Homo sapiens: one gene and its partners. The protein of the gene in region 3 interacts with the protein of the main gene of each other region in a pairwise test. Each region holds a gene or a part of one and is shown on either strand. Other genes may lie near its edges.

Region 1 (7,579 bases), on a different chromosome or scaffold from region 3:
CCAAAGATGACTAAAACCAGCCCCTGTTCTCACTGTTCCAAAATTAGTCAGACGTTTGATTTAAAAGTAGTTGTGATTTCTTTTCCAGGAGTCTTGAAGGACTTCTGACCATATGGGTAGGGACAATTTTCTGAGATGGATTTGGGGTGAGGACATTGCTTAAAAGGAGGTATAAGGGCTGGGCGTGGTGGCTTACACCTGTAATCCCAGCAATTTCGGAGGCCGAGGCAGGTGGATCACCTCAGGTCAGGAGTTTGAGACAAGCCTGACCAACATGGAGAAACCCCGTCTCTACTAAAAATACAAAATTAGCTGGGCGTGGTGGCGCATGCCTGTAATCCCAGCTACTCAGGAGGCTGAGGCAGGAGAATTGCTTGAACCTGGGAGATGGAGGTTGCAGTGAGCCGAGATGGCGCCACTGTACTCCAGCCCAGGCAACAAGAGCGAAACTCCATCTCAAAAAAAAAAAAAAAAAAAAAAAAGAGGTATAAGGGAGGAGATGGGAGGGGACTGTGGGGAGGAAGGATAAAGAGAAAGAGGGGCATCCTCCGAAACTCCAAACAGTGAAGTCTTCCCTACCCTACCCCTACCCATCATGTGGAACAAGGAAAATGTTAGCTGCGAAGCCACCACTTCAAGTCCTAGCTGCCTGCTGTTTTGAGGTACCCACCTAAACCCTCCAGAGAAAGAATTGCCCACCCACACTCTCCCATCACTTGCATTTTGCCTAGACCAGTGGGGGCTGGGAGTGGTGGGGGGATGAGTAGACTCATGTGCATCACTAAGCAAAGAGGATCAGGGACTAGCAGGTGAACCTCCAGCCGGAAGCACCAGGAGGACAAAAACTGTGATTTCTTCCTTAAGGGGAACACGGGACAACCCGCTACAGGGGACAGAAGAGCAGGATCCTGCCATATGTTGTAGAAACTGTGAGGCCAGATTCCACCTGTCCAGTCCCAAAGGAAAACTTTCTCCTTGACCCTAAAAACCAGTTGGGCCAGTTGATGACACAGCAAAATTTTAATAAGATGAGTCTCCCTGAAAACAGCAACTGGACACGGCCCCTCCTCCTTCCGTTCATTCTCTCATTCTCTTTCCCACTCACCCCTAATTTTTTCAAGAACAAAAGACATGAAATGAGCCACTCCATCCTCTACCCTACAGCCTGATTGGACTAGTGAATTACTAGCCAAGCTTTCTAAACAAACAAACAAAACAGGTTTCCAAACGCAGGGCAGAGGAAGGAAGCCAAAATAAGGAAGAAGAAAGAAAAGGAGCTCAGCCTTTCCTTCTCCTGTGGAGCCTCCCCAGCCCACCAGGGAACATCACCTCCACCAATAGCCACAGCAGACCCACTATGTGCCAGTCACATATTAGGTCCTGGGAGATACTGATCCTGCTGATGAAGGACTCACATGCTGGTGTGGTAAGAAAATATGCAAATGAGCAGGGACCTTGGAGGGTGCCTAGTGCTGAGAGGGAAGTGGGTACAGGGCACAGGTGGGGATTCTCAAGGAAAGTCTGTCAATAAGTGGGGGCAGAAAAAAATACTTTATCAAAAATGACTTTGTAAATACTTTACTTTTTTTTAGAGCAGTTTTAAGTTTGCCACAAAAGTGAGAGGAATGTGCAGAGTTCCCAACTAGCCCTTCCCCCCTACACATACATAGCCCCCCCATTATAAACATTCTCCCACGGGAGCATTTATTACTATTGTTGGACCTACATTGGCACATCATTATCACCCAAAATCCATGTTTACATTAGAGTTTGCTGCTGGTATTATTCATTCTATGGATTTAGACAAATGTGTCATGACAGGTATCCACCATTATGGTATCATACACAGAGTATTTTCACTGCCCTAAAAAGCATCTGTGGATTTTCAGAGAAAAGAGCAACTTTTGCATGCTAGGTAAGTATTGCTTTCCTAGTAGGGGAACAGCAGGAAACAGCAGTCACCTTGGTGACTACTGAGGTGAAACACCATGGTGCTGTTCTGTAAATGGCTGGAAAATAAGGCTCAAGGAGCCAGATGGGGCAGGGAAAAAGAAAAAGACAGAAACACAGGCAGATTTGAATACCATGAGAATCGATTTGCATGAGAATGGATTGAGACTTCTGCAACAGCCCAGGGGAGAGATGAGGGGGCTGATTTAGAACAGTGAGAGGTTTGAGCAAAGCAAAGTTGAAAAGACCCTCCAGGTAACTGCTATGATTGACAGCAAGGAGGGCAGTGTTCCCCCAGCACAGCCCTGGCACAGGCAGCTCTAGAGGAAGCCTGGGTCTCCCACTCCCTTCCTTTTGCCACAGTCTCCCTAGCACATGCCTCCACCCTTCTCTCACTTTGGGGGACTGTGACCATTGGGTGGCAGGTGACTTCTTGAGAAATTCACTAATGTTTCCCTCTTTACTTCCTCCCTGCCTTGGTGGTTAATGGTTTGCCAAAGCAGAAGGAACATGCCTCTAGGCGCTTGCCATGATGACTTTTGCTTCCCAAAGTTAAGCTACTGAGCTGTTTATGGTTTATGTGATGGGGCCTGAGAGATTAGGAGAAGGAAGGAGAACTTCTGGGGGACACATGGAGACTGAGGAAGAGGGGGCAATCATTTTTGCAAGCTCTGAGCTGCAGCGCACACACAGTCAGCTGTGGAGCTTCACAGCCATTCCCTCTGCAGGCTCCTAGCCTCTCCAGAAACTTCCGTACCCCAGGAGTGGCAGACACAAGGCGATGGGAACAAGAGAGTATCTGCAGAATACACTGCCTGCTAAAGACAAGAGAGGACTCCCCAGATCCTTGCCTTGGTATTGCAGGAAGAGCTCAGCCTCCCAAAATCGGAGGTCAATTTATTGCCTGCCCTGTAGAATGGGAGCCGGAGGTTGAGGAGTGGATGTAAATAAAGGAATGCACTGTTTCTTGCACACACCTCTCTCCACTATCTGGGCAGAGTCTAGGTCTCATCCATCACCAAGGTTCTAGCACTCAGCTGAGAGGCTGCAGCAGGAGGGGCAGATGGAGGAGGGTGCGGTGCATACCATCTCCCCATCAAACCAATGGGCACCACGTGACCATTCTTGTGTCTCTGGGGACTGTCAATCTGCATGCTAGGAAAGGGGTGGCATTCCAATCTTTCATTTTTTTGTGTGTGAGACGGAGTCTTGCTCTGTCACCCAGGCTGGAGTGCAATGGTGCGATCTTGGCTCACTGCAACCTCCGCTCCCCGGGTTCAAGAGATTTTCCTGCCTTAGCCTCCCGAGTAGCTGGGATTACAGGCATGAGCCACCACACCCAGCTAATTTTGTATTTTTAGTAGAGACAGAGTTTCTCTATGTTGGTCAGGCTGGTCTGGAACTCCTGACCTCAGGTGATCCACCCGCCTTGGCCTCCCAAAGTGTTGGGATTACAGGCGTGAGCCACTGCGCCCGGCCCCATGCTTTCACTTTTAAAAATGCTTGTAGGGCACGCAAAAATACTAAACGGTCGATGGAGAAGGTCTGTCTGGAGTAGTTGTTTTTTTTTTTTTTTTTTGAGACAGAGTCTCGCTCTGTCGCCCAGGCTGGTGTGCAGTGGCACGATCTCGGCTCACTGCAAGCTCCGCCTCCCAGGTTCAGGCGATTCTCCTGCCTCAGCCTCCCAAGTAGCTGGGACTACAGGCGCCCGCCACCACACCCGGCTAATTTAATTTTTTGTATTTTTAGTAGAGACGGGGTTTCATCGCGTTAGCCAAGATGGTCTCGATCTCCTGACCTCGTGATCTGCCCGCCTCAGCCTCCCAAAGTGCTGGGATTACAGGCGTGAGCCACCTCGCCCGGCCTGTCTGGCGTAGTTCTAACCAGGAACAGAGCCAGCGGCCAGGGCCGCACCAGGCCTGGCCAGGGAGCGCCGCGCCTGCGCACTGCAGACTCTGAAGCCGCCGAGCCCTCCGCCGAGGTGGGTGGGGAAACTGCCCGGGCATCCGGGTCCCTCACCCCGCCCCCGCTGCATGAATGAGAGGCGCGGCGCCCGCCCCTCCCCCGGCGGGCCCGCCCCTCGCGAGGGGCCGCCGGGCGCAGTCAGCCGCCGCCACCTCCGCCGCGCTCTGTCCGGACGGACGCTCGCCGCCCGCAGCCTGCCGCCCGCCGCAGGGCGCTGACGGTCCCGCACGTCTGCCGCTGCCACCGGCGCGCCCGAGTAAGTGAGCGAGCGAGGGCGGGAGCGCCGCGGCCGCCGCCCCCGGGCTGGGGTTTGGGGGACCGAGCCGCTCCGGGTTCGGGATGCTGAGGAGACCGCGGGCCCGCGCCAGCCTCCCACACACACACACTCTCCCGGCGCCTCGGCCGGCCGGGCGCGGTGTGCAGGGGTGAGGCGGTGTCTCCAGGCTGAGGAGGGACGCGGAGGAGGGTCCGGCGCGGCCCCGGGACTGGAGGGTGAGTCCCTCACAAAGGGCGGAGCGGGGCTGTCACCTGGAGATCACGGAGGGAAGGTGCGTGGGCCCCCGCACGTCCTGCTCGCCCAAGCCCTGGCATCGGGTCCCCGGGCGTGGGAGGCGGCTGGGATGAGCTGGGAGGCTAGGAGGAGGATGGCGAGGACGCTGCCCCCGCGTTGGCGGTGGGCGCGCGCCTTGGGGGGTGCGGCGTGGCAGTGTTTTCCTGGTCCCCGTCCACTCCTCCCCTTTCTTTGTGGCGCTTGTCTCGTGCCCCGTTGTCACAGTGTGCATGGCAGTGGTCGGGGTGGAGACCTCTTCCCTCGGCTTACTCATTAATGAAAGTCACCATCTGTGGGCAGGGGGCGTGTGTGGTTCCACAGGCCGGAGAATTAAGGACCCTCCTTTGTTTCTGGAGACCTAATGATGTGTGTGTGTGTGTGTGTGTGTGTGTGTGTGTGTGTGCGCATTCAAGTGAAAGGGACATCTATGAAATGAGAGAATCAGAGATTGTCAAAAAGGGTATGAGGAAAAGGGGAGGGGATATAACTTCATCACACCTTTACCCAATTCTTTACCTGATGTTATTTCAAACAGTTTTTTCTCACTGTAAAACCAGTGGGTTTTATTCATTGGAAATGTGCATCTAAATTCTCATATATCTGTGTTTCTAGAATACTTTGCCTTTTTGGGCTTAGTTAATGGTAAGATTCTCATGTCTGTCTACATAGGAATACTCCACCGTACAGGACACTGCTTTCTGGGTTTAGTTCATTGATAATTTGTCCGAATGCTCATAAACATGTCTATAGGAATACTCCAATATATCTAGGACACAGTTTTCTCCGCTCCTGAATACAGGCAGATTTTGTTTCTTTCTGCCTCCCTGTGTTAATGAGAAGGTAGTCCAGCAGGTTCTCTCTACCTCCTTGCTTTTTTTTCCCCTTAATGCTTTGGCAGAGGGTTTTATTGCATATTACCCTGGCATGCGCCCTTGCTTTGATGTGAATTTTCCTGTGTTCTGTTGTCTGGTTGTACAGCCCAGCTCAATGGCTCCTCTTACAGGACTACTGGAAAACAGAACACCTTTTTTCATTGTCCTCATCTCCAGAGAGAGAAGGAAGCGCTGTAGGTTCCCACAAACGTTGACTCTGTCAGACTGCCTGCCTGACTTTGTTGTGTTGGTAAAGTTATGAAGAGTTGCAGTTGTTGTAGACCAATTAAAAAGAGGCTATTGGGATAACACCAGCTCTTCCTTGCTATTTTGGTTTTAAAACAAATGATATGAATTTTGCAAGATAGTTGTTAACTCTGGTTGCATGATGATTTTCAGTTTCTTTTTACCCATATACTTTTACAGGGTGTTGGGAAATTAGCCACTCATTTACAAGAAACACACCTCCAAGGTATTTTTATTATGGGTCGGGTGCGGTGGCTCACACCTGTAATCCCAGCACTTTGGGGGGCCGAGGTGGGTGGATCACCAGAGGTCAGAAGTTTGAGACCAGCCTGGCCAACATGGTGAAACCCTGTCTCTACTAAAAAAATACAAAAAATTAGCCGGGCATGGTGGCGAGCGCCTGTAATTCCAGCTACTCGGGAGGCTGAGGCAGGAGAATCGCTTGAACTCCCGGAGGCGGAGGTTGCAGTGAGCCTAGATCGCGCCATTGCATTCCAGCCTGGGCAACAAGAGCGAAACTCCGTCTGAAAAAAAAGCTATTTTTATTATGATCTTTGGATTCAAAATAGCGGTTTTAAAAAATTAAGAGGCGCTTATATTGGATGATATGAATAATTGTATGGGTTCTGTTTTCTTTAAGATTCTCTGTAATATTTTTAAAAATCACATGTATTTTAATTCCTAGTAGTTTTCAGTGGAAAATGAAATGTAAACTAAGCAGTCTTCCACAGCATCTGTTTATGTATATTCCCTCTGTTTAAAACATTTGCTTTTAATTTGAAGGGGAAATTTTCCATGGTCAGTTCAGGATACATTATTCTTAGTAAAATTCTTACCACGTTCAAATTCTTTTTTGTAAGAGTAAAAAAAAATTAATGAAAGTTGATTTTTCAATTGGGGATGTTTTGGTTTTAATGCATGATTTAAATAAAATCTTAATATCAATTAATTTAATTCAGATAAGTTAATTTAAAACAAGGCTTTTATGAAGGAAAAATGAAGCAGAAAAAAAAAAACAAGAGCTTTACTAACTAAAGTCACTAATGTTGAAGTAACCCAGTACATTTATAAACTGCCTGTCTTGACTGCATAAGACATTTTTTAGGAGTCTCCTTAAAACAAACCGTAAGGGGAAGTCTTAGATAAACAGAGTAGCATAACCGGAATTATCACTGAAATAAGCTTGCACAGTATCGCAATTTCATGGAAGTTTAATTTTGCAAGAGTGACTTAGCTATTTTTAATATCAACAAAGGAACCTAAACACAGCCTGGCCTTGTTATTCAGCATTCTGTTAATCAAAGTATTTGCCAACCCATAGTTTAGCATTCTGTAGTATGATGATTGAAGAAAAAATCTAAACTAACTTTTAGATCCTTAAAATAGATAAAATAATGTTAAGTGCTGTTTTAATAGTAAATATTTATTCATTAGAATAGTAATATTATGTTAGTGATGGTAAGAGCATAGATGGTAACACTTTGTTAACTAGGATCTATTATCCTCCCAGTAATGTCTCATAATAAAAAGTAATTTATTTTTCCATTGAGCATTCTCTATCAATAATTGCTTTTTTGTTTTTTGGGTGTTTTGTTGTTTTTTTTTTTTGAGATGGAGTCTCACCCTGTCCCCTAGGCTGGAGTGCAGTGGCGTGATCTCGGCTGACTGCAGCCTCCGTCTCCCAGGTTCAAGTGATTCTCATGCCTCAGCTTCCCGAATAGCTGGGAATACAGGCACTGGCCACCACGCCTGGCTAATTTTTTTTTGTATTTTTAGTAGAGACGGAGTTTTGCCATGTTGGCCAGACTGGTCTTGAGCTCCTGGCCTCAAGCCATCTGCCTGCCTTAGCCTCCCAAAGTGCTGTGATTATAGGTGTGAGCCACCGCGCCCGGCCAATAATTGTTTATTGTTTTAAATGGGAGTTTATTCTAAGATCAGTAATAATGCTATTACAATGTGTTAGCTTGAATCATATGAAATTGCCATGTTGAGACTG
Region 2 (8,486 bases), on a different chromosome or scaffold from region 3:
TGGCCGTGGAAGCAGAACTCCAGGTGGGGAATGTTCAATCTCTGCCTCCCTTAAAGCAGGGCCAGGCTCAGCTGGCCCCATTGTTCACTTGGTCACAAGTTTCCTACCTTTGTTTCTGGATGAGTCAAAGGCCAGGAAGGCAGTTATGGAGAGCTCCTGCACCTCCAGCTGCCCCACAGAAAAGCCTGCAAGAGTACTTCCAGGCACAGGCCCTCTCCCACCCTATTCCATTTGTAAGCAAGGGAGGTCGAGGAAAAGGACATCTCCAAAAGGGAGCATAAGAATAGCCATATATACAGGGGCTGAAAAAGTGCTCATGAGTCCATCTTTTCTGGAAAGCAAAGACCAGCCTGAAGCAGTGGGAGCTGCTGCCCAAGCGGTAGTGAACTGGAGAGAAACAGGCCCTGGATTTTCAGTGAGGATGTGGATCTGAAGAGTCCCCCAAATGCCTCTGAAGTCTGACATCTCTGCTTAGCCCTAGGAGTCTGGTTCCCTGCCTTCAGTTGCAGAGTGATGTGTTTGTGTCATTGTTGATGTCACCTCCTAAAAAGACCTTCACTTTCTGGCTGCCACAAAGCCATATGTGTTGCTCCCCATATACAGCCTGACAGAGTAAATGGAGAGGAAGTGCTGGATTTGTGTATCACTGGCTATCAGTTCCTCATGTTGTTAAGCCTCACACAGGTGTGCTAGCATTGAACTGTAGAGTGTCACATACCTGAGTTTGAAAATAAAAGCACATTTCCAAACCTCTGGCAGCAGCCAAATGCCTCCTCATTTTATGGAGTTGAATTACAGTCTTACCCCAACCCAGAATTAGATGCCTTTGGATATATTAGTGCATTCCAGAACCAAGTCAGAGGTCCCCAACCCTTGGTCGTTATACTATGGGCTACCTCACAGGGGCTGGATCAGTTCCTCCTCTTCCCTTCCCCATTCCTGATCCTGGTTTCCTGTATCTTCCTGGTCTATGATTTTTTTAATTAACACAGTTTGCTGTGATTGAGTCTGCTGAGTTTTTAACCAACCTGATTTCCACAGCTGAACTATTTTTGTCTTTCTTACAGCTAGCTGCAGGGGAATGTGGACTTTCCAAATCTAGTTCCCTAAAAATAAACTCTCCTGCCCAATACTTCACACCTTTTTTTACTCCCTTCTCTGCCTACCAAAGCCAGAGGATTCAGATGAGAACACTGAGACCCGAGAAAATGGCAGAACCACTAGACGGAAGCTGGGTCTTTGAATGAGCACTCCCAGTATTGAACTGTGACATGAATAAGAAATAAGATTTTAGTATATTAAGCCACAGAGATTCCAGGATGTTTATAGCAGTTAGCCTACCCTAATGCATACATTTGAACCAGAAATTGTGTACTTTAATAGCAAAATTCCAAAATATGAGGTTCTAGCTTACCAGTTACATGGCAAGAAACAAAACTGCTAGAAAGATGGTAAGATAGTAAAGTCTTACCTGTGATAACTTGGAAAGCATCTCATGGTTAGCCTATTTATAAGTGGTGGAAAGAATCAGCGTTGGGGTATGGAAACTTCTCTTGGCTGCCTTTGGCAAGGTATGGCAGGAGAAATAATTGGCTATGTGGGAGCAAAAATGAAAAAGAATATAGAGTATTCAGAAATGTGAAAGATTGAAGGGTGAGAAAACCTGACCACTTCTAAATCCCAGACAGACTAAAAAGAGCTTTGAGTGGGAGCCAATAAAATTTCTCAGTTGAACAGATCGACTCAGCCTTATGGCAAAGGCTAGATTAAGGATGTGGCCCTTTGTGAGTTCAAATGAACTTAGTGTATTCACCACTAAATTTGAGGGGTATGGTGCTGAGAAACAGGAAATACTTCTTGAGAATTATGACTGGGAAAGGATTTGGGGTATGATTATTGGCACATGGAAGCAGAAATCTAACTTTGTGAGGGAATTTACAAAGAAACACAAGCCAGGACTAAAAACCCCTTTCATTGTTCAGGTGAGGAAACAGCTTTGAGGAGGAAAGAAAATATATCAGAGAGATACCTGCACCCTCATGTTTATTGCAGCAGTATTCACAATCGCCAAGATATGGTATTAAAATGTGTCCAGCAACAGATGAGTGGATAAAGAAAACATGGTGTACATACACAACGGAATAGTATTCAGCCGTAAAAAATGAAATCCTGGCATTCACAGCAACATAGATGGAAATGGAGGTCATTATGTGAAGTAAAATAAGCCATGAACAGAAAGTTAACACCACATGTTCTAATTCATGGAAGCTAACAAAAGATCTCATGGAAGTAAAAAACAGAATAGAGGATACTAGTGGCTGGAAAGGGAAGAGAGGAGGAAAAGACAGATTTGTTAAAGGACATAAAATTAGGAGGAACAAGTTATAGTGTTTTATGGCACTATAGGATGACTATAGATAACAATAACATATTTTCAAATAGCTGGAAGAGAAGATATTGAACACCCCCAACACAAAGGATAAATGTTTCAGATGATGGATATGCTAATTAGCCTGATCTGATCACTACATCTTGTTTGTATGGAAACATCAAAATGTACATGTGTATAATTATGTATTGATTAAAAATAAAATTTTTTTAAAATTAAGAAAACTTTTGGGATCTTAGCTTATGCCGGCAGGAAGCAGACTGCAAAAGCTGTGCTATTCCCAAGGAAGGCATACTCCCTAATATCCACTTCAAATGTGGACAAGCAAGATTATATGCAAATGAATCTCCCAGAGGGATGCAAAGGGCCGCAGAAAACAGTGGATGTGGAAGTTTCTCTCAGAAAGCAGATCAGAATCAAATCAAGGTTAAGTGACTGTGGAAGGCAGAATTTCTAGAATAGCCCTCCAAAGATGTCCCACCCTAATCCCTGGAGCCTTTGAATAGGAGCTCCAGGGGTATGGAGCTTTGTTGTGTTACATTAGATGGTACAGTTGACCTTAAGATAGGGAGGTTATCCAGGTGGGCCCATGAGCCCTTAAAAGCAGACAGCTCGCCGGGCGCGGTGGCTCACGCCTGTAATCCCAGCATTTGGGAGGCTGAGGCGGGCGGATCATGAGGTCAGGAGATCGAGACCATCCTGGCTAACACAGTGAAACCCTGCCTCTACCAAAAATACAAAAAATTAGCTGGGTGTGGTGGCGGGCGCCTGTAGTCCCAGATACTCGGGAGGCTGAGGCAAGGAATGGCATGAACCCAGGAGGCAGAGCTTGCAGTGAGCTGAGATCACGCCACTGCACTCCAGCCTGGGCAACAGAGTGAGACTCTGTCTCAAAAAAAAAAAAAAAAAAAAAAAAAGTAGAGAGCTCTGCTTGAGCCCAGGAGGTAGATGCTGCAGTGAGTCACGATGGCGCCACTGCGCTCCAGCCAACAGAGCAAGACCGTGTCTCTTAAAAGAGCAGAGAACTTTCTCTGGCTAACTGTAGAAGTGAAAGAGAGACTAGAAGTATGAGAAGGACTCAGTGTGTCATTGCTGCTTTGAAAATGGAAGGGCTCTAGGAGAAGAGAATGGTCCCTGGCTGACACCCTGCAAGGAAACAGGGACCTCATTCCCACAACCTCAAAGAAATGAATTCTGCCAACAACCCAAATGTGCTTCGAAGTGGATTCTTCCCCAGAGCCTCTGGGTAAGAGCCCAGCCCAGCCAGCACCTTAATGTCAGTTTCGTGAGACCCAGGGCAGAGGACCCAACTGAGCCCACTCAGACCTCTGACATATAGAAGCTGTTAAATGATAAATGAGTACTGTTTAAGCCGCTAAGTCTATGGTAATTTGTTGGACAGCAATAGAAAGCTGGCACAGCGACCTTTCTAAGGCCTCTTCATTGGTATTCCAGAAATTCTATGGCTGGTGATCACTGTGACTCTCATTCTCCTCCTTGACACAAAGCCTTGCCTTCCCTGATTCATTCTTCCCCTTCCTGTCTTCCTTCGTTCTTTTTGCAATAAGTGAACAAATGCTAGAAAGCTAGCTCTCTTTCGGGCATGGTGTTAGGCTTTAAGAATAATCATGAAGAGGCCAGGACTCTGCCTGTCTGCCTCCCTGGTGCTGTGATGATAGAGTCATGCATGTTTCTGAGAAACTGGGGCTTGTGCTCACCCAGATCATGAGGTCGGTATTGGAGATGTGTAAGGGCTGTTACCCTGGTCTTTTAGAAGTTCCCTGCATTTGTTTAGAGCAGATTCTCTTTTTGTTATTGATATTTTTCACACAAATATCTAACTTTATGACCAGTACCACTTATATAAAAAAGAATTCGTTATCCATATACTTTTCCTATAAAAGACATTCATTTTGGAAAAATCTCATAAACCTTTGCCCAAGACATTGCTTACAAGCCAGAACTCCATAATTACCATGAAGCAAAAACCACTGAAAATCCGGCTGGAAAAACATAGAATACACTCTGCTGGTACACAGCACAGATAAACCTCATGTTCATCGAACAACAAAGGTGGAGTCTGACTTGAATTCTGGCCTACCAGAATATGAAAGGAGTTATTAAGAGAAAGTTATTTCATAAAAGACCCCTGTGGTGATTACTATTGTAAAGTTAAAAATCCTTGGGGAAAGTGTAAAATGTTTAATTTTGTAAATTGCCCTCCTACTTGTGTTATGTAAATGTGAATGTTTATATGTGCCTGGTTTCTTTGAAAAAGGAATCACCTGTAGTGGTGTAGAGATTTCAAATGTGTAAAAGGAGACTCAAAGGAAGGCAGAAGGTTCTAGACTCAGTATTTAAGTGGACATTTACTTTCATGAGCTTCAGCATCATACCCTGCAGATCACAAGGCCGAACAGCTGGGTGGAAAAATCACTGATTGCGGGAGGAAAAGAGGCACAACCTATGCTCAGTCTCCTTTAGGGACAGAGATGTTTCTAGGAGTACATAAACGATGGACTCCACAGGCAGTAACAGTGAATGGTGTGAGAACTGAGCTGCTGGGGGAGGAGGAACAGCAGGGAATATGGGAATTGGGAGAACCTTTAGCAGTTCACACTGTGCTATCTGCCTTCCTCATTTGTGTGTTTTCTGAGTCAGCATTAGCTAAATTTTCCAGAAGGCCATCCACAAAGTACAGCCTGGGCGTTCAAGGGACGTCATTCATTTCCCCCAGTGACCTTGACAAGTCAGAAGCTTGAAAGCAGGGAAATCCGGATGTCTCGGTTATGAAGTGGAGCAGTGAGTGTGAGCCTCAACATAGTTCCAGAACTCTCCATCCGGACTAGTTATTGAGCATCTGCCTCTCATATCACCAGTGGCCATCTGAGGTGTTTCCCTGGCTCTGAAGGGGTAGGCACGATGGCCAGGTGCTTCAGCCTGGTGTTGCTTCTCACTTCCATCTGGACCACGAGGCTCCTGGTCCAAGGCTCTTTGCGTGCAGAAGGTAGGTTTCTCACCAGATTTCCAAACTGAAGCAAGGCTTCAGTCCTAAGCCTCCTAAGCTGTTGACTATGGATTTCTGGGAATGAGGGTGACCCTCAGTGTCAACAGCAGGTCTAATTGGTGGTACTGCTCTGCCAAAAATGTACCACCATATTGTCAACTTCACCAAAATGATTGACATTTACGTTTGTATCATCTGGACTTTTACTTTTGGTTATGGAATATTTTTAATGAGGACATTTTGAAATAAAACACTGAAGAGAAACCATTTGATTTTTACTCTTTTTTGTATGGGTGGTATTTAAATTTTTTGTAGCAATGGGATCTCGCTTTGTTGCCCAGCCTGGTCTTGAACTCCTGGCTTCAAGTGATCGTCCTGCCTCAGCCTACCAAAGTACTGGGATTGCAGGCATGAGCCACTGCATCCAGAAGTAATAATTTTTTTTTAAGTATTTCATTGAAGACGCAAACCATGATTGTAAAAAATTTAAAGCAATCACTAAGCTTGGGAATAATGGGTAACTTTCACTAAAATTGGCCTGTTTTTATGTTTTTTGGGAGTGTTAGCATAATTATTTTAATTTTGATTTTATCATACCATGAATGAGGTGCAATGTTTTAAAAAAATATTCAGTAAATAGCAAATTAGCTGAAAAAAATCTGTAAAAATATAAGTTTGAAAATTAAGCCATCGGCTGTCTACTAAAGGAATGACTTAAAGTGATCGCTGGGCTTTTGAGATGCCTAAATGGAAACCTCATTTTGCACTGTAGGCAAAAAAATTGTAACCACAAATCACTCATTGCAGCTCTGGGCAAATGAAAATCTGAGCACTTTAATAGGAAAATGTGTGTTCCTATGCTGGAAGATGACCTGAGATATAAAATATGCTAGAAACAGACATTCAGAGTTGATTTATATGTTGTTGCATTACATTTTATAAGAAAGGTCAGAGTTATATGATTAGTTTTTTAAAATACTGTTACTTTCAAATAAGTTTGGTCCTCTTTGAAATCCTCTGGGGAGACTATTTTTCCCCACAATGCTGCCATTATTCAAACTATTGGACACTGTTTTTTGAAAATGACTCCATCACACTCTGGACTATCCTCAGCAAGGGAAAAAGATTTTCTAGGGAAATTACATTTTTGGAAACAACCAAAAGTCAGCATAACCATGACTGCAGAATAAAGTAGTTGATGAAGGTAAGTGAATAGGGGTGGGAACTATATTTGAGGGCCAAGTATATAGTGATCCAGAGCTAGGTGTGTATATACAATTTCATTTAATCCTCTCAAAAAGACAGTTTATAGGTGAAGTGACTTGCCCAATGTCATGCAGGCAGTACATAATAAATATTGGGTTTGAATTCAGCCCTATCTGATTCCTAAGCATATGCTATTATCTGATTCCACATCCTTATATCTAACTCCTAAGCATACACTATTTCTACTATGTTTGCTGTTTCCTGAGAAATCTTAAGGAAGGAGTTACTGGAGTACTCCCTTAAATTCCAGCTCCCTCTTTTGATCCCTAAATGAAATAGGAAAGCATAAAATGACTAATGTTGTTGACTTCCTACTGGGCCCCGCCTCTGCTAGGTACAAGTTATCTAATTTAATTCTGATAAAAATCATGTGAAGAAGATATATCCATCCCCATTTTCAGATGAGAATGCTGACTTGCCTGATGTCGCAACAGCCAGTTAACAATAGAAAAAATATTCAAAGCTAAGTCTATCCACCTAGAATAAGTCTATCACTCCTCTAAATAATAGTATTTAGAGTACAAATGACATATGATGAGAGGGTAGTAAGACCAATTGATAATGTGACAAATAAACCTCTGCAATCCATTCCCAAAGAAGTAGCTATAAGAGACCTGAGCAATAGCAAGCTCATGAGCTAAAAGAGCCAAATTTCAGAGCAAACGGTGTGTTCAGGGAGTTCAGCCTAGGGGTGTGTGTGTGTCTGTGTGTGTTCATTTCCTTATAGCACTGTGAAAGGTAAAACAGTGTCATTGTTAAGAACTGGGGGCCGGGTTGGGCACGGTGGTTCATGACTGTAATCTCAGCACTTTAGGAGGCCGAGGTGGGTGGATCACCTGAGGTCAGGAGTTTGAGACCAGCCTGGCCAACATGGTGAAACCCCATCTCTACAAAAAATACAAAAATTAGCTGGGCATGGTGTCTCGCGTCTGTAGTCCCAGCTAGTCAGGAGGCTGAAGCACAAGAGTTGCTTGGACCCGGGAGGCAGAGGTTGCAGTGAGCATGGATCACGCCACTGCACTGCAGCCTGGGTGACAGAACGAGACTCTGTCTCAAAAAAGAAAAAAAAAAGGGCCAGGCACAGTGGCTCACGCCTGTAATCCCAGCACTTTGGGAAGCCAAGGTGGGTGGATCACCTGAGGTCGGCAGTTCAAGACCAACCTGACCAACATGGAGAAACCCTGTCTCTACTAAAAGTACAAAATTAGCCAGGTTTGGTGGCACATGCCTGTAATCCCAGCTACTTGGGAGAATGAGGCAGGAGAATCGCTTGAACCCAGGAGGTGGAGGTTACAGTGAGCCGAGATCACGCTATTGCACTCCAGCCTGGGCAACAAGAGTGAAACTCCGTCTCAAAAAAAAAAAAAGAACTGGGGTTCTTGCTTGGCCATACTGGTGCACACCTGTAGTTCCAGCTACTCAGGGAGGCTGAGGTGGGAGGATTGCTTGAGCCCAGGAATTTACGACCAGCCTGGGCAACATAGCAAGATCCATCTCTTGGGAAAGAAGAAGGAAAAAAGAGGAACTGGGGTTTTAGAATCAGGCATAATTGAGTGTGTGCTCCTAATCTGCCACCACAGCAAGGTTCATATGGAGGACTTAGAAATGCTCCTTCCATGTTTTCAAAAAGAAACTTCCATTAGATATCAACCTAGGAAGTGGTCAAAGCATTTGACTGAGCATCCAATACACAGAGCTGCGTACAAGCAATTACTTGAGAGATTTAAATGCCCTTTTATGGATGTTTGTGGATGAAGCCCAGTAGGAATAATGTATTTGAATACAATACAACTTGGCAATTTTATACAGGTCTGTACATCCCAG
Region 3 (7,618 bases):
GCTTCACAAATCACATAACAACCAGTGCTTTGAAGTTCCATGAACACTTACAATATTCTGTGTGTCAGTGGCATTTTGAGCTCTTGGCACAACAGATCTGTCAGGCAAATGCTTTTTTTTTTTTGACAAATAGGGAAACAACCACCCACATATCTGGGTAAATACAAGATGTGCCAAGCTTGGCTGTGCATTTCATTGGCTAAAGCCAGTAAGGATTCATCAGAGGTGAGATTTCTACAGGGCAAGGATGCTGACTTGACCAGTTCTGATGCAGAGTATGTGACAACAATATGACACTGAATTAACACAGGTCTTGGGTTATCCATGTTAACAACTGTGTTACTTAATACTTGATTTATTAACTATATTTCAACTTTTTTTCCCATTTAAGAACTCAGTGCTTCATACAGCAACCAGTAATAGTAGCTAATATAGCTAATGCTTATTAAGCACATACCAAGACAGTGTTAAGCTCTTTGTAAATACTATCTCATTTAATTCTCATATCTTTTATGTGGTTGGTGCTATAAGTATCACCATTAGAGGCCCCATAAGGCCAATTAATTTGCCCAGGGTTACAGAATGATTAAACAAAAGAGCTGGGGTTTGAGCTCATGTAGTCTGAGGTTAGAATCTATGTTTATAATTATTAGGCTATACAGCCTCTTGTTACACTATATGGCCAATAAATTGCAAGTTTATGTCAATATCCATGTCAAAAAATTCTGGGATCTTTTGGGAGAAACAAAGATTAAGGAAGACCTTAGGCATTATCTAAGGTTCATCTTCTCAGTATCCCTGAAGCCTCTTCCCCTTCTTAGTTTCTAAATGTTGGAATGTCCCAATGCCCTCTTCTCTTCTATGTCCACACTCTTCTCCTGGATGATCTCAGAAGTCTAGTGCCTTGTATAGATTCTATGTGTCAATAACTCCCAATTTATGAGCCGTAGATTGATATATTTAAATTGTCACTAGAGATCACTACTCCGATGTCTAATAGGCATAACCTTTACCTAAATCTGACTACTTTTCACCATCTCCACTAACGCCACCAGCATCTTTTGCCTGGGTACTTTAACACCCTCTAAATTTATCAACCTCTTCCAGTAGCTTCCCATGTCTCTCGAAGTAAAAACCCAAGACTTCACTGTGGTGTACAAGGCTCTACATAAATCATCTGTGCCTTGTTATTTTTCTTAATTCATTGCCTGTCCCTTTTCTCACCCCACTCCAACCAGATTGGAGACCTCTGGATCATTTTCAAACACACCAAACTTGTTCCCATTTCAGAGTTTTTGGACTTACTATTTTCCCAGTCTAGGATGACCTTCAGTCAGGTCTGTTCCCTCAACTCATCCTGGTATTCCTTGAGATGGCATCTCTTCTGAAAGCCTTCTACCATCAGCATATCCAAATACCAGTCTCCATCACCCCCTGTCATCCATAGCACTATCACTACCTAACATTCTATCATGTGGTTTCTTTGTTTACAGCCTGTTTCCCATGATAGATTGTAAGCTCCATGAGGGAAGTCACTTTTTCTTTCCCTGTTTACCACTTTAACTTCCAGAACTTTGAACCCTCTTGGCACAGAGTAGATGCTCACTAATTATCTGTTGAGGGACTAAATACATTGTCTAATGAGATTCCTTCATTTGAGGAAGCTGGGGTCAGAAAGCCTCATGATCACACACTCGGTAGAGACGGAGCTGGTATACTGACCACTGTACTACATTTCATCATTAACTCTCTCTAAATACCTAATGATTTCTTTTTAATAATTGTTGCAACTTGTCAGATGATACTTACCACGCCTGTAAGGAAGGCTGAAAGAATATAATGTTTTGCCTATGGATGGCTTCAATTAGTGAATTTAATGGCACATTTTTAATGGTAGCAATAATAATAATTCATATGGCAATTGCACCTATTTATGTTTAATCTGCTCATCAATAGTTGTGCTGTGTTTAGAGGCTTTCTTTGGCCCAAGGTTTAGATTCTTCTTTCCTAAGGTAAGAAAAATGCATTTAGTATCACCAAGAGTGATGCACACACAGCGAGTACTAAACCTCTCCATCCTCCACAGCTGCAGTATTAACCATGTCCAATAATTTTTCCATTCCCTAAGTTAAACACATGCTCCTTCCTTACCTTCCAGAATACTGAGCTCCACCTGTTAGGTGATCTTTGGATCTGGAAATCATCCTCATACTCCCAAATTGAGGCTGTACAGTCCTCATAAAACTGGTGCAGGTAGGACCGGACTCCATAGCGCTGGTAACCACCCTCAGCTGCAGCCTGTGCCTGCCTGGACCCACAGACGTTGCTGCAAGAACTCATCCTTCCCAGCTGGAATGACAACATCCACATGGATTAATGCCACAGGCTTTGGCCACAGGATCAAAAGACATATGAAAGGTAAGAACCAGACTGAGTAATGTATGCCTAGTTGAACAATGCTCTTTTCATTACAGAAAAGGTACTTTTAAAGACCCCTCTCTCTTGGCGGGGCGCAGTGGCTCACGCCTGTAATCCCAGCACTTTGGGAGGCTGAGGAGGGAGGATCACGAGGTGAGGAGATGGAGACCATCCTGGCTAACACGGTGAAACCCTGTCTCTACTAAAAACACACACACACACACACACACACACACACACACACAATTAGCTGGGTGTGGTGGTGGGCACCTGTAGTCCCAGCTACTTGGGAGGCTGAGGCAGGAGAATGGCGTGAACCCGGGAGGTGGGGCTTGCAGTGAGCCAAGATCGCACCACTGCACTCCAGCCTGGGTGACAGAGTGAGACTCCGTCTCAATAAAACAAACAACAACAACAACAAACCTGTCTTTCTTATAAGCTGTTCTTCTTTTTTGCTTAATGCAAGATTACCTAAACACTCAATGACTAGAACTGCATCTCCATAAATGAAATGAGATACAACAGCACAACTCACATAAATTAGGTACACATTTAAGCATGAAGCACACAAGAAATGGCAACAAAGAAGCTGAGATTTTTTATTGCCTTGACAAGAAATCTTTAATCTCTTAGAATCTAGTTGTCTTTGCACTTACATGTTAAAGAATTGGGCAGGCATTCTCATTTGCTGAAGATGGAGTTTGTCTTAGACTGTCCTCTCAGATTTTTAACTATGTTTCCTTGTGGAATCTACACCGCATTACTCTTACTAGTTTGAAATTTTGCCTTCCGATCTCATGTATCTTCCTCTGACATTTTAACTAATTGTCAAGTTGTATGAAGCTTTATTAAAAAGCTGCTGAGCAATTTATGCCTCATGCTTTATTAATCACAAATGGCTTGGCCAATAATTTACACCTCACTAACTCTAACACCATATATTTTACCCATTGTTTGTGGATACATCTGTCCATGTGGGTGGCTAGAGTATAATGTGGAGAGTGGACACAACCTTTTATTATTTTCCATGAAGTGTCTACTGTAAGTAAGAACTCAGAGAACTGTTAAATAAAACTATGTCCTAGGCAGGTTGTTTTGGGTTCTGCCTTTTTAAGATGGAAATTTCTACTTTATTTGACCTAATTGATACCCTTAGAGAGAGGCATTTATATGGATTTTGTTACTAATCATGGTTAAAAAAAAGAAAGAATTACTGAGTGACAGTAATTTTGTTGAATAAGGGAATTGTCAGTTATCGTCTTAATTTCTGATCTCCATATAAGCAAATAAATGTATAGCTGGAAATGTGAAATACGTGTTTGGATTTTTAAATTATCCTGTACACAGATGGTAACACAGTGACACAGGGAGGGGAACATCACACACCTGTCAGGGGGTGGGGAGCAAGGGGATGGAGAGCATTAGGACAAATACCTAATGCATGTGGGCCTTAAAACCTAGGTGATGGGTTGATGGGTGCAACACATCACCATGGCACATGTATACCTATGTAACAAGCCTGTACGTTCTGCACATGTATCCCAGAACTTAAAGTATAATATTAAAAAGTGGAAATAATAAAAGAAATATAAAATTCTGAAAGAACTCTTTAGTCCACAATATAGCTGCCACACTGTTTGAATATAAATGAAGGTGGTTATTTTTGTGTTTTCAAATAAATCAGACTTCTTCCAAAAAAAATTATCCTGTAGATAGTTTTAGTTATGTGGACATAGTCTATACGTGACAAAGTGGGGAACAACATAGAAGGTTATTTTTCTATTAAGCCAGGTTTTCTCAGAGCTTGTGCTGTAATCCAGGCCAACAGAGGCATATTAAATGTTTCCAATTACTTATCAAGCAACCAGCTAGTAATGTTTATCTACAAAAGAAAAATATCGATCTACAGTCCCATCAAATGCCTATATGTGGCCAGTTAGTTTGATTGGATAGAATTATGGGGCTAAAATCAAAGTTGGAACCAGGGATAGTCAGCAATTCCTTGTGCAGTGGGCACAAAGTAAACCCATTAGCACATCTTTAAATATGTGCCCTTAGCTACACATGAGTTTTGGTTAAGAATGTAGTCAAATTGAGGAAAACATGGCCCTGGTCTTAGAAAAATGGTGCTATTAATGATGACCAATAACCTCATCTTTTTAGCTGTTGGTCAATTAAAACCAACTAACTGTTAGCTCCTGTGCTTTTTTCTGTTTCAGGTATAGCTACCATCTAAAGAAATCACCCAGGGAAAGAGTGCAGGGAGGCAAGAGTCTACACATACACACCCACACCTGCACTCCCCCACACACGAACACATTTGCTTTAAAACATTTAGAAAGATATGATTTCATAAAAAGTCAAGGTTTTTAGAATGTTCTTTGCCTGAGTAGAGCAGCAAAATCTGGCAGATCAAAAGAATATTAACCTAGTTTTAATATTTTAAGCACTAGGACGATCTCTTCAGTACCTTCTATTTAATGCTTATACAATGAAGATGATTAACAAGAGCCTATTACCATTGGTATATAAGTGGCATAATTTTAAAGGCATTTTCCTTTAAGGCATTCTAATGCAAATTTCAGTCCAGGTGAGATGGGGTTGGTATTACTAACTGCTTTGTCAACTAGGAAACTGAGGCATAGAAAAATCATCTACTAAAGGTTACACCATGAGTCAGGGAACAGATGAAAGATGACAATTAACACAAGAAGCAGGAGTATGGACTGAATCATATACTTGCATAGTCAGAACCACCTCCTCTAAATATATATTTTCAGATTTTCTATAAAGCATCAGAGACTTTAACATGAAAAAGGGACAAAAATAGATATGATAGGAATAAAAAAAAATCCCTCATAGCAACAGTAAGAGTTATGTTTCCTTAGATGCTGAAGTTGTTCTTTCCCAGGATTGAGCTTTGATGCAGAGAAGGACCGTGTGATATATTACAGCCATTCCCTGAACAGTTTGCTACCAGAACAGTAGGTTAAATGTTTCTGCTTTATGAGACCCAGTTGTCCAACTTTGTTAAAAACAATATAGGTCAAATCATAAAAGAGATAGAAAGTGTCATAAAACACATGTTTTTGAGCCTGAGTGATTGAAGGCTCTACTTGAAGCCATGGATTTTTAGCTATGTCAGCTACATTCCAGAAAAGGAATTCCAAAGCGCCTTACTTTCTCCTCCAGGGGCACAAAACATGAACAAGAACATGGTCTGTTTTGTGCTACCTAAACGGGGCAGAGAATGGACTTTACTGCCATTTTTTGATTTGCAACTTACTGGTCAGGAGATTCCAGACAAGCTCATTAGTCTCTCTGGGCTATGGTTTCATCATCCTTAAAGTAAGAGGGTTGGACCAGATTAATCTCTAATTCCTTCCAGTTGTAGCTTTTCAGGATTTTTTTTGTCTGTACGGAATGACTCTATCATTTTTTTATTGAACGAACAACTAGGTTTACTGATTTCCTACCTCCTTCCATATCCTTACTGACAGCTCAAATTCTTACTTTATACTAGTATGTATGCAGCTTCCCTTTAAAAAGGGCATATAACTAGTTAGGTTAGTTACTTGCTACTAGGTAGACTAAATGTTCGTATGTTGTTTAACAAGTTACTTCAGTATCACGTATGTTGCCTAAAATAGGATCCCCGAGGGTCTGACAGGTATCACACATCTTCCCAAACATATAACTACCTGGAATTCACTCCTAGAGAAGAATGACTTGGAAGAACATGAATTTTAAAATATAACATGTTAGAGTGATAGATTTGGACCTACAAAATCTCAACAGAGAGTTATACATCTCCTAGGGAAGTCAGTAACTTTTTGTCCCCATGTTACAGTTATTTGGAATCTTATTTGATTGATGGACACTTCTGGTATCATAAAAAAGGTATGTGAGGTCACATCATAAAGTCACTTTAAAGACTGGGCAGTTATTAAACTATATATAACAAACTAGAATTGAGACAGAAACAGAAGCTATGTGCAAAGGCTTTTTACTTTGGCTTATTATTTACTTAAAGATCAAGGTTTCATAAGATTTCTGATGTCTATATTTCAATAGCTGTAGTAGCAACAACAAAAAGGTTAAATCTATGATTGTTGTTAATGAACATATTTTAGAGAGCCTTTTTTATTTACAGAAAGCTTTAATATCACAGGAGGTACATGGATAGAGGGGATGAGTAAACACACTCTTTAGTATTATATTTAATTCAATCCAGAGTAAACACACTCTTTAGTATTATATTTAATTCAATCCACATTAGTCTTCATTCTGTAAACACTCTGATGGAGCCTGTTGCATCCTCCCTGCCAGCATGGCCATGATGATTGGGCACAAGCAACTTTTGTGTGTCATTGTTTGGTTATCTATGAAGAGAGAGTTGTTTTTATTCTCTCTGAAGGATGCTCTACTTGCTGATAAATGAGGATCCATCCATGGATTTCTTCTTTTTATAACCTGTCCATAGCAACTGTCTCAATTGCATGCACTGTTATACATTAAATGAATATTCAGTTCTTACCAACTCAGCACACCTATCATAACCCAGAGACATGAGGAGGGAAAAAAATTATGCTGCCACTCCCTATCAAATTCTTCTGAGAGGCTTTCTATAATCAATATATCTAAATATCAGCGTTCCATTACTTTCTATCCCCTTGTCTAGGTTTGTTTCTCTTCCTAGCACTTGTTACTATCTGATATTCTATGTGTGGTTTATTTACTTATGGTCTGATAGACCATATACATGATAGAGTGTAAGCTACATGTGGGCAGGGACATTTTCTGTACTGTTGACCACTTTAATCTCCAGTACTTTGAAACTTCCTGCAGAGTTCTACGTGGGTTGGTGTGGATGAAGGCCTGAGTAGTCCTCCATTTTTCATCCTCCCCTTCCTTCAGTGTTTTTAAAGCACTACGTGCCAGGCACCTGTGAGATAAATAATAGTTGTGAAGATGAGTGGAGCCAGGTCTGCCCTCAATGGACTCTTGGGTTACAAGGAGACACACTCATGAAGCAATAAACATAACAAAATGGGCATCATCAAGAGGTAAAGGGAGTACAAATGCTGAGAATTCCTTGAATAATTCCTGTATTAGGGAAACAAGCTCATGAATGTGCTATTGTGATATCACTATGTGTGCCAATAGACTGTAGTATCAATGTGTTGGAAATTTAAATTTC

Evidence for each region.
Region 1: the proteins of NRSN1 (region 3) and RNF24 interact in binary tests that used the Homo sapiens proteins (3 or more experiments, as listed by UniProt).
Region 2: the proteins of NRSN1 (region 3) and LYVE1 interact in binary tests that used the Homo sapiens proteins (3 or more experiments, as listed by UniProt).

Annotation. Positions count from the first base shown.
Region 1 is NC_000020.11:4,012,029-4,019,607, reverse strand, and holds the start of RNF24 (RING finger protein 24), read left to right. Parts: upstream 1-4,049; 5' UTR 4,050-4,171; exon of another isoform or gene 4,172-4,463; intron 4,464-7,579. UniProt on the Homo sapiens protein: May play a role in TRPCs intracellular trafficking.
Region 2 is NC_000011.10:10,565,358-10,573,843, reverse strand, and holds the start of LYVE1 (lymphatic vessel endothelial hyaluronic acid receptor 1 precursor), read left to right. Parts: upstream 1-5,178; 5' UTR 5,179-5,311; coding exon 5,312-5,396; intron 5,397-8,486. UniProt on the Homo sapiens protein: Ligand-specific transporter trafficking between intracellular organelles (TGN) and the plasma membrane. Plays a role in autocrine regulation of cell growth mediated by growth regulators containing cell surface retention sequence binding (CRS).
Region 3 is NC_000006.12:24,129,050-24,136,667, reverse strand, and holds part of NRSN1 (neurensin-1), read right to left. Parts: intron 2,350-7,618; 5' UTR 2,341-2,349; coding exon 2,152-2,340; intron 1-2,151. UniProt on the Homo sapiens protein: May play an important role in neural organelle transport, and in transduction of nerve signals or in nerve growth. May play a role in neurite extension. May play a role in memory consolidation.